Regions from separate parts of the Homo sapiens genome. Here all the other regions are reported to be linked to region 2. The links are microRNA targets in miRTarBase. Many come from high-throughput screens and were not tested one by one. Region 2 holds a microRNA gene; each other region holds the end of a gene's coding sequence.
The links. Region 2 holds the annotated microRNA hsa-miR-4786-5p (UGAGACCAGGACUGGAUGCACC, at 1,880-1,901, opposite strand). A microRNA usually pairs through its seed, bases 2 to 8, with sites in the 3' UTR of a target mRNA and lowers its output. Matches are read on the target gene's strand: a 7mer-m8 pairs with bases 2 to 8, a 7mer-A1 pairs with bases 2 to 7 and ends in A, and an 8mer does both.

Region 1: miRTarBase lists COX6A1 as a target of hsa-miR-4786-5p. Seed matches in the 3' UTR shown: 7mer-m8 at 2,316-2,322.
Region 3: the mRNA of MPI is a reported target of hsa-miR-4786-5p. Seed matches in the 3' UTR shown: 7mer-m8 at 1,617-1,623 and 8mer at 503-510.

Annotation. Positions count from the first base shown.
Region 1 is chr12:120,439,792-120,442,994 of GRCh38, reverse strand. COX6A1 (cytochrome c oxidase subunit 6A1) reads right to left here. Exons shown (of 3, transcript NM_004373.4): 3 at 2,265-2,541. The coding sequence ends at 2,458. Among named protein-coding and RNA genes, the nearest start is that of COX6A1, 3.3 kb to the right of the region's middle.
Region 2 is chr2:239,941,184-239,944,435 of GRCh38, forward strand. MIR4786 (microRNA 4786) reads right to left here and starts at 1,911; the gene lies at 1,832-1,911. It also overlaps a transcript of NDUFA10 not described here.
Region 3 is chr15:74,897,143-74,900,376 of GRCh38, reverse strand. MPI (mannose phosphate isomerase) reads right to left here. Exons shown (of 8, transcript NM_002435.3): 7 at 3,158-3,234; 8 at 1-2,865. The coding sequence ends at 2,647. It overlaps FAM219B (family with sequence similarity 219 member B), which reads left to right. Exons shown (of 5, transcript NM_020447.5): 5 at 1-385. Among named protein-coding and RNA genes, the nearest start is that of FAM219B, 8.1 kb to the left of the region's middle. RefSeq lists an enhancer at 1,166-1,665.

The DNA of each region.
Region 1 (3,203 bases), not on the chromosome of region 2:
TTAATGTCATTTCAAAACATTCTTCATTTATATTTTATGACTGGCTAGGGTCCATTATCCAAGGATTATAAAAGATGTTTGGAACCCAGCCAAGGGAGGCCAGGCAGCAAGCTGAAGTATAATGCATCTGTCCTAAACTCAGACTGGCCACAACCAAAACAGCTCTATAGGGACTCAGAAGTGCAGGCTGTAATATTACAAAATGGCAAAGACAATGAGATTCTCTATTCCGTTAATTATTACAAAATGGCAAAGACAATGAGATTCTCTATTCCGTACTGTATATGCCTTACTTTTGCGTTACCAGTTTAATGTAATATAATATGAAATACCTTGTTGCCTCTTGAACCTTACCACGAAAGTGTTCCTTTGAGCCTTAAGAATAAACCAGCTGGCTGGGCGCGGTGGCTCACGCCAGTAATCCCAGCACTTTGGGAGACTGAGGTGGGCAGATCACCTGAGGTTGGGAGTTTGAGACTAGCCTGACCAACATGGAGAAACCCCATCTCTACTTAAAATACAAAAAATTAGCCAGGTGTGGTGGCACATGCCTGTAATCACAGCTACTCAGGAGGGTGAGGCAGGAGAATTGCTTGAACCTGGGAGGTGGAGGTTGTGGTGAGCCAAGATCATGCCATTGCACTCCAGCCTGGGCAACAAAAGCGAAACTCTGTCTCAAAAAATAAAATAAAATAAAATAAACCAGCTCTGGCCAGGCACAGTGGCTCAGACCTGTAATCCTAGCACTTTGGGAGGCTGAGGTGGGCAGATCACCTGAGGTTAGGAGTTCAAGACCAGCCTGGCCAACATGTGAAACCTTGTCTCTACTAAAAATACAAAAAAGTAGCCGGGCGTAGTGGCGGGCGCCTGTAGTCCCAGCTACTTGGGAGGCTGAGGCAGGAGAATGGCGTGAACCCGGGAGGTGGAGCTTGCAGTGAGCCGAGGTCCCGCCACTGCACTCCAGCCTGGGCGACAGAGCGAGACTCCATCTCAAAAAAAAAAAAAAAAAAAAAAAAATAATAATAATAATAATAATAATAATTGCCCTCTCAGAGTGGTTTTGTAACTACTACTACTACCATTTACTATCCATTAAAGCAGGATAGTTTTAATTCCACAGAAAAGCCAATAAGCAGAAATGTGTCACGCTCCCTTTGTTTCTCTTAAGATTTCTGACCCTACCAGCCCTGAAGGAGATTACCTCAAAGTAAGAACTTGACACATTCGAGGCCAGGCACGGTGGCTCACGCCTGTAATCCCAGCACTTTGGGAGGCTGAGGCGGGTGGATCACGAGGTCAGGAGATCGAGACCATCCTGGCTAACATGGTGAAACCCTGTGTCTACTGAAAATACAAAAAATTAGCTGGGTGTGGTGGCGGGTGCCTATAGTCCCAGCTACTCGGGAGGCTGAGGCAGGAGAATGGCTTGAACCTGGGAGGCAGAGCTTGCAGTGAGTGGAGATCGTGCCACTGCACTCTAGCCTGGGCAACAGAGAGAGACTCCGTCTCAAAAAAAAAGAAAAAAAAGAACTTGACATGTTCAAGAAAATTATGACTACAGGGAAGATTCTGCAGTAAATGCTAGTGGAATGGGACAGGAAAAAGATGAGACCCAGATCAAGCACTTCCTCTTGAGAAATACAGATACCTCTTTCAGGTGTAAATTGCAGGCATTCTGCTAGCCATTCAATGTCTTTGATATCTCAGGCCCGTCAAGGACCAATCTTTTGTTTTTTGAGACAGAGTCTCACTCTGTTGCCCAGGCTGGAGTGCAGTGGCACGATCTTGGCTCACTGCAACCTCCACCTCCCGGGTTCAAGCCTCTACACCCAGCTATAGGAGTGCGCCACCACACCCAACTAATTTTTGTATTTTTAGTAGAGACAGGATTTCATCATGTTGGCCCGGCTGATCTCCAACTCCTGACCTCAGGTGATCTGCCAGCCTCAGCCTCCCAAAGTGCTGGGATTACAGGCATGAGCCACCGCACCTGACCAAGGACTAATCTTGATGCTTAATTAGCACCACTCCACTTGGTCCCTTTATCCACATCAGGCACAATAAACCAAGAGGGGCTGTTATAAACACTTATTCAATGGGCTGAATTGGACCTGTAACACTAAACAGCAGCCTAGACCTTCACTGTGGAAACAGAAATAACTAATGCCAATTTCTTTTCAACTTGGACACTGACTTGAAGCTCAAATGCTAATTTCTGCGAAAAAACACAACCAAAGAAAGTAACTCTCAGCTCATGACCAATCTAAATTTAAGTTATTTATTTAAGCCATCTCCTGCCACAAGCAAAGGGATGGGAGACCAGTATACCAGTCATCATTTGATACAAGTAAAGAAGGTGAGCTTAAGGTCCCATATACTTTTTCTGGTCCATGTGCAGAGTAACGGTCCAAACCAGTGCTGTGGTCCCTGGTGCCCGGGTAGTGGTCCAGATTCTCTTTATTCATCTTCGTAGCCAGTTGGAAGTGGATTCACATGAGGGTTATGGAATAGAGTATGGTTACCATCTCCCCAGGGAAACGGCTGTGGAGTGAAGATGTCAGTTAGATAATTCCAGAAAATAATTTAGAAAGAACACCGTCATGAACTGCTTATAACGGGGTGACAGATCATATATAAAAACAAAATGGAAATTAGTCCTTTATCTACTGGTGTAGTTCAACCTTCCCATTATTTAAGGAGCTCTTATAACTACCAGGGGAGCCCTTAAAGTTATCCTGGCTACAGGACAGTTTTAATTCCAGAAACAAATATGGATGGCAGAAAATGCAAGCTCAAGTTAGTTACTCATCATCCTCTCCCTAGTAACTAGTATATCCAGTGCTGTGTTTATGAAAGTGTAATCCTCAAATCACCTATATCAAAATGGTGGCAGTATTAGGGGAGGGAGATGCTTAATTAAATGCAGATTTCTGGCACCATCCCAGACTTCAAACAATATCTGGGCTGGGAAACTGCAGCCCACCCTGAATTATCTTGCCTATTACCTTTGAAAAGCATTACTTTAGGGCAACGGTCTCCAACCCAGGGTGATTTTGCCCCTTCAGGGCACACTGGGTAGTATCGGGAGACACTGTGATGGGGGCGGGGGAGGGGGAAGCGGGAGTGGGGTTGCGCAGGTACTACTGCCACCTAGTGGGTACAGGCCAAGGATATGGCTAAACATTTCACAATGCACAAGATAG
Region 2 (3,252 bases):
CATTTACGTTCCTTAAAAATGCAAACACACGAAACAACACATTATGTCAGAACATATGCAAACAAAAAGATCTCTCAAGCACAGGGAATGCTGGCCTCCCTGGACAAGGGCAATGGGAGTGGCACATAGGGTAAAGTATCTTCACAAACAGGGACAGACACTTCCCACGCCCGATGATGTGAATGCACCGGGGGCACAGAACTGCGGCTGTTCCACCCTCGGTGTCAGAGGTTCCTTCCTCGACATCAAAACGACAAAGTTCAAGGACGTGGTGGCTCACACCTATAATCCCAGCACTTTGGAAGGCCAAGGCGGGCAGATCACCTGAGGTCGGGAGTTGGAGACCAGACTGGCCAATATGGTAAAACTCCATCTCTACTAAAAATACAAAAATTAGCTGGGCATGATGGCGCACGTTTGTAATCCCAGCTTCTCAGGAGGCTGAGGTGGGAAAATGATTGAACCTGAGAGGCGGAGCTTGCAGGGAGCCAAGATCGCACCACTGCACTCCAGCCTGGGCAACAGAGTAAGACTCTGTCTCAAAAAAAAAAAAAGAAAAAAAGGTTCAAGGAAGAAAGGAAAAAAAATTCCAAATTCCTCTCTTCAGAAAAACCATCTACATCAGTGAACAACATCCTGATATTTTTATGCCTGTATATCAACAGAAACACAGGTATGCTTTCATGAAATGGGATCTATCAATGCTATTTTAAATTACATTTAATTTATTTTAATATCAGTTTTCAACATAAGCAAATGAAAGTAAAACTAGTGAATTTTCTGCACCAAAACAGTATGGACCTTAGATTTTAAAATCCTCTGAAATGAGAAAAACAAATGGATTCTGCATATTGAAAGATCACACCATGTGTGCACAAACTATTTCACTTGGAATCACTTTGGTCTGAACACCAGTGATTCTTTTGCCGGACTGCCTTTGTCCACCTTCCTATAAATTAGTTTTACATATACAAAGTTCACAACAGTTTTCATCCCTCTACCACGTTTACCTTTACTTACTGTGGCTGTCTTCAGCCTTTCCTCTAGGGCAGCGGTGTTCACGCGGTAGTGTGCGCTGCAATCACCTTGCTAAACACAGATGCTGCTGGGGCCCACCCACCAGGGCGCCTGAGCCAGCAGGCCTGGGTGCAGCCTAGACACCTGCATTTCCGACAAGCTCCCAGGTGGAGGCTGGGGCCGCTGGTCCAGGAGCCACACTTGGAGAACGATGGATTTCTGTCAATAGCAATTTCAGCCTTGCTATGTCGTTTGTTGCTGTTTGAAATGTATTGGTTTGGTTCTGACACTGTTTCGGTTCTGTTTGCTTCCTGAGGTCTGACATCTTATTTTCATTTCTTAGTCTTATACGTTGTTGACATTTATTTTATTGAATTCATGTTCTTATCAAACTGTTCTCTTAGGCAAAGCACAGGAATATTTTTTTTTTCTGTTCACGAGCTGTGCGTCCTCTGCCTTCCGCATGTTTATCTTGCGCATGCTGTGGTCCCTTCTCCAGCACTGAGTCACGGGTTTCTCTGTGGGACGTTTGCCTGTCACTTGCCCTCCCCTTCCCTGCCTTTCCATTCTCTTCAAGCCCGAGCAGCTCTGACTGGGTCCTCATATGTTTTAACACAGCACTGGAGGGGTTTTAACTCTTTCCACAAAACCTGGCAAAGGCTCGTCTTCCCCTCTTAGCCACAGGAAGCCCAGGCAGTTTGTGTTCAGGCCACCTTCGGGAAGCCTGCAAGGATGGTGGTGGCAGGAGGAGCTCAGCCGAAGTGGAAGAAGGTTCGTTCAAATGCTGAGGCTCTGCTCCTGCTTCTGGAATCCTGTGAAATGGCCCAGACCAGAGCTGGCTTCACCTCATCACAGGGAGAGTGGTGCATCCAGTCCTGGTCTCAGGCCATGCCCACAGGCCAACGCATCCCTGGAGCCTCCACTTCTTACGGAGAGTTTCAACTCACAGTTATCTTCCCATGTCTGCCAGAGGCATTGCAAGACTCCCTGTCTCCAGATCCCAAGCACAGAGGCGGCCTGGGGCTCCGCTTGTGTACCAGTGGGACTCAGGCTTGGTGGCAGGTCAGAGCCACACGAATCTGCCTTCTGCTCTACTCTGAAATCTTTTGCTTATTTTATTGGCTACTAATTTTTCTTTCTTTTTTTTTGAGATGGGGTCTCACAGTGCCACACAGGCTGGATGGAGTGCAGTGGCGCAATCAGAGCTCACTGCAGCCCCAATTTCCTGGGCTCAAGTGATCCTCCCGCCTCAGCCTCCCAAAGTGTTGGGATTACAGGCGTGAGCCACTACACCTGGTCTTTGGCTACAAATTTTCAAAGTGTATGGCCTTGTTTGTTTTCTGCTGGGATTATTTTTCTAGTTTTTCCTTTCTATTCTGTTAGGGACTGGGGGCAGGACACTGTGATTCCGCTTAATCCTGCTGTCTTTGACATTTTTTTAATGTCCATGAGCAGGGACAAATCTTAGTCTCATAAGAATGTGCCTGATTTGGGAAGCAGGCCTCACTCAGCACCGACCGCCCCTCCTGGCACAGCACTGGCATCCCCTGGTGTTCCATAAACACAGAGACTGAGAGATGAGCAGACGAGTATGGGCCCTGGATGCTCCCTGCAGCCCCTCTGCAGAGCTGGACCTGCAGTCCAAGACTCCTTGGGGATGAGGGGTCTAGGGTTTAGTCCCTGTCCCTGGACAGTGATGGAGCTAAAGGCATGGGGCAGCGTCTGTCCCTTTTATGGGGGGAAGCTGAGGCTGCTGGGGGCAGTGCCTGTCCCGAGATGTCCCCAGACTCAGGTGCTCTGCTCCTTCCTTCCCATAAATCCTGGGCCTCCCCTGTGTCCTAAGGGCCTGCGGCCACCTGGCTAGTCCTGTTGCTGGTCCTCCTCCAGGTGCAGGGCACCGGTGCCCGCAAAATGAGCCACCCTGCCCCTGACCACTGCAGCCAGGCCCCTGAGAGGAGGCACATGACTCAGCCCACCCCCTCCTGGCATTGTTATCCTCCTGCCAAGATCCTGAGGCCATGCCAGAAAGGACCTGGGGCCAGCCTAGACCTTTCCATCATTTCACGTAGGCAGCAGCCTTGCCAAAGTCCCCGGGGGCAGAGCGGCTGTTTGGGTCTGGCGTCTGCTCCAGCCTGGCGTCCCCCATGCTGAGTGTGGCCCCAGGGCCAGCGCCGCAGGCTGAGATCCCAAGGCTGCATCTCTGGCTCGGACCTCTGGTCACGGCTCAGGCTGGGT
Region 3 (3,234 bases), not on the chromosome of region 2:
TGTAATAATCAGCTCTGGCATATTCAGCTGCAACTGTCCCTGAAGAAGAGGTTTCTGAGCTGGCTGACCCCATGTAGGAGGGTGTTACCTTGTAGAAAAAGCTGGAGGGACCTGGTGGGACAGTGCAGTGAGGCAGGGTAGAAATGGTCAGTTGTTTAGGGCCAGTGGCCACATACCAAAATACCACCAATGTGCCCAGGGCCAAACTGCCTTAATTCTGAGTGCTGTGTGTTCTGCAGGTGACAGTTTCCTGAGGAGAGGGGTGTATCCAGGCTTACCTCCCAGCAGGAGTGGTACCATATGGTGTTTATGTACTACTCTATAGAACTCTTGGCTTGCACTTCTACAGCTCTGTACATTTATAAGAATAAATGCAATCACACTAGTTGAGCTGTGTCTGTGTTGCAGTGGATTTTAAAGGCCTTGGCCAGGCACAATGGCTCATGCTTGTAATCCCAGCACTTTCAGAGGCTGAGGCAAGCAAATCACAAGGTCAGGAGTTTGAGACCAACCTGACCTTACCTGGAATTGTAGATCCTGTCACCCCGTCTCTACTGAAACCCCGTCTCTACTAAAAATACAAAAACTTAGCTGGGTGTGGTGGCAGGCGCCTGTAGTCCCAGCTACTCAGGAGCTGAGGCAGAAGAATCGCTTGAACCCAGTGGGCGGAGGTTGCAGTGAGCTATCGCGCCACTGCACTCCAGCCCGGGAGACAGTGCGAGACTCCGTCTCAAAAAAATAAAAGTTAAGAATATCCTGGATATCCTGAAATGAAGAAATAGCTTAACAGCTGACTACAGCAATTCCTTCTGGAAACTCCCTCCCCTTTCTGCTGTTCCCACTGGGCATCACTTTCGGGCCTGTTTCACTGGACGGCATGAGTGAAATAGGCTCTTGCAAGTCACTTCTGTAGAATGGGTTCCCTTTAGCAGACCTTTTCTTTCCAGCTCATCTTTATTGTTTTTTAGCTGAAGAAAATTTGGAGGCAAGAAAACCCAGGAGATTTTTGAAGGTGGTTTCCTGGAACTCCATTGTATAGGGACTCTAGTGTGGGCAGAAGCCCAGAAAGATTCTTTTGCATGAATTTAAACCTTTATCCCACAGGAAGGAGCCAGTGGACTAAGTGATTAGTCTGTGGTGACAGGATCTACGATTGCAGGTCAGAAACCTCAGCAGCAGCAGACAGCCGACAGCCTCTTGCAGGTGTGTGCCACCCCTGGAGCAGGGCATCAGGAGATTCCCTCCTTCACACTTCCTGCCCGTTTAGGAAAGCTAACTGGGCTTCTCCTCGCCATGAAAATTGTCTAATTCGGTTCCTGAGTCCCTGTAATCTGCAACAGTTGAGTATGTTGTAGAGAAGTGGTTGACAGTCAATGGTTTCAGTTTTGCAGGCCGTACAGTCTAGTGCAACTCTTCAACTTTGCCACTGTGGCTTGAAAGCAGCCAGACAGTATGGAAATGAACAGGTATGGCCAGAACTGGCCTGCCAGCCTGGTTTGCGGACCCCTCCTCTAGGGCCAGTTGAAAAACAGGAGCCGGGCCAGGCGTGGTGGCTCACGCCTGTAATCCCAGCACTTTGGGAGGCTGAGGTGGGCGGATCACGAGGTCAGAAGATCGAGACCATCCTGGCTAACACAGTGAAACCCCATCTCTACTAAAAATACCAAAAAAATTGGCTGGGCGTGGTGGTGGGCGCCTGTGGTCCCAGCTACTTGGGAGGCTGAGGCAGAAGAGTGGCGTGAACCCGGGAGGCGGAGCTTGCAATGAGCCGAGATCGTGCCACTGCACTCCAGCCTGGGCTACAGACCGAGACTCCGTCTCAAAAAAAAAAAAAAGAGAAAAACAGGAGCGAAGAGTCTTGCACTGGTGACTGGTGTATCCTTTGAGTCACCTTCTCTGTAGGGCTGCTTGCAAGCTGTGCCTCTGGGCAGACCCAAGGCCTGCTTGCAAGCTGTGCCTGTGAGGCCAAAGCTGGCTTCCTCTCCCACTCCTTCCCATACCGGTGTTCTGGAGTGTAGCCTGCTCACTCCCCCGAGAAGCTGTATGAAATAGGAATAAAGCAAAAACTGGGGCATCATGTAGGGAGGGCTCTTTTGGCCCACTTTAGGAACAGGTACCCCAAAGGCTGAGTGCTCATTACCCCACAGCCTCAACACAAGTGATCTTTAATTGCTTTGACAGAACAAGGGTGTAAACAGCGTTAGTCTACAGGCCTACCCTTTCCCTTTCCTCCTCTGCAGCTGAGGAAATGGGCAGTCCCATCGCTAGAACCCTGTTCTTAGAAATTACCTGGTCTCTTGCTCTGACAGATGCTGAGCTAATGCTGGGTCACATATTTAACAGCTAGCCTAAAGCCATAGGCTGGAACAGAGTTGGCAAGAGCCTGGCTCAGGTGTAGCGAGGAGTAGAGAGGGAAGACAAAGGGAGTATCAGACCCCTCACACGGGCCTCTCCTCCCCAAAGATGGTTCCACCTGGGTGTGTTCAGGAGTCACTACCTTCACGCTCCCTCCTCCCCCACCCCAGCTCTTCCAGGGTATACCTAAGGGGTCCAGAGCAAGGAAGGGGGCTTGAGCTGGGCCCGAGGAGGTGAGGTTGGCTGGAATTTAGGGTGGCTGGCAGAGGAGAGCTGGGGAGGCTGCAGCCTTTACAGCAGACAGCAGGCACGGAATATCAGCAGGTCCTTCGGCTCAGTAAGCTTCAGTGAGACACTCTCATTGGCCCCAATGAAGAGCACGCCACCACGTTGCAGAGGGATTGGTGTCTGGGTTGTGGGTGTGCTGGCTATTACTGTCCCCTGTACCATCAGGAGGATGCTGGCAGAGTCCAGTGCCAAGACCTTGTATTCAGTGACAGAGCCAGGGACCTGGGCAGGAAGAAATGATAAGGCAGTGCAGCTCAGACTCTGCTCTCATCAGCTCATGGGCCCAGGACAGTCCCCAGGGCACGAGGGAGAGCTCTGCCACCTTCTCGCACAACCCAGGCTCAGTCAGCATAGAGGCCTGGTCCCTGGTACAGGAAGGAATGGGCAGGCCCTGGGGCCACCCTCCGCCAAGTGGGCTTGACAGGAAACCCAGCCCCAGGTGTCCTCCACATCGTGACCCTTGCCAGAGATTTTCATGGCACACGAAGGACACCCATCATAGCCCCTCACTCACCTCCGTCTTCATAATGGTGAAGTCTGGTACAGGGGGGTCATAGATTGAGAGGTAGGGGTCTTCCTGACTCCGTGTTG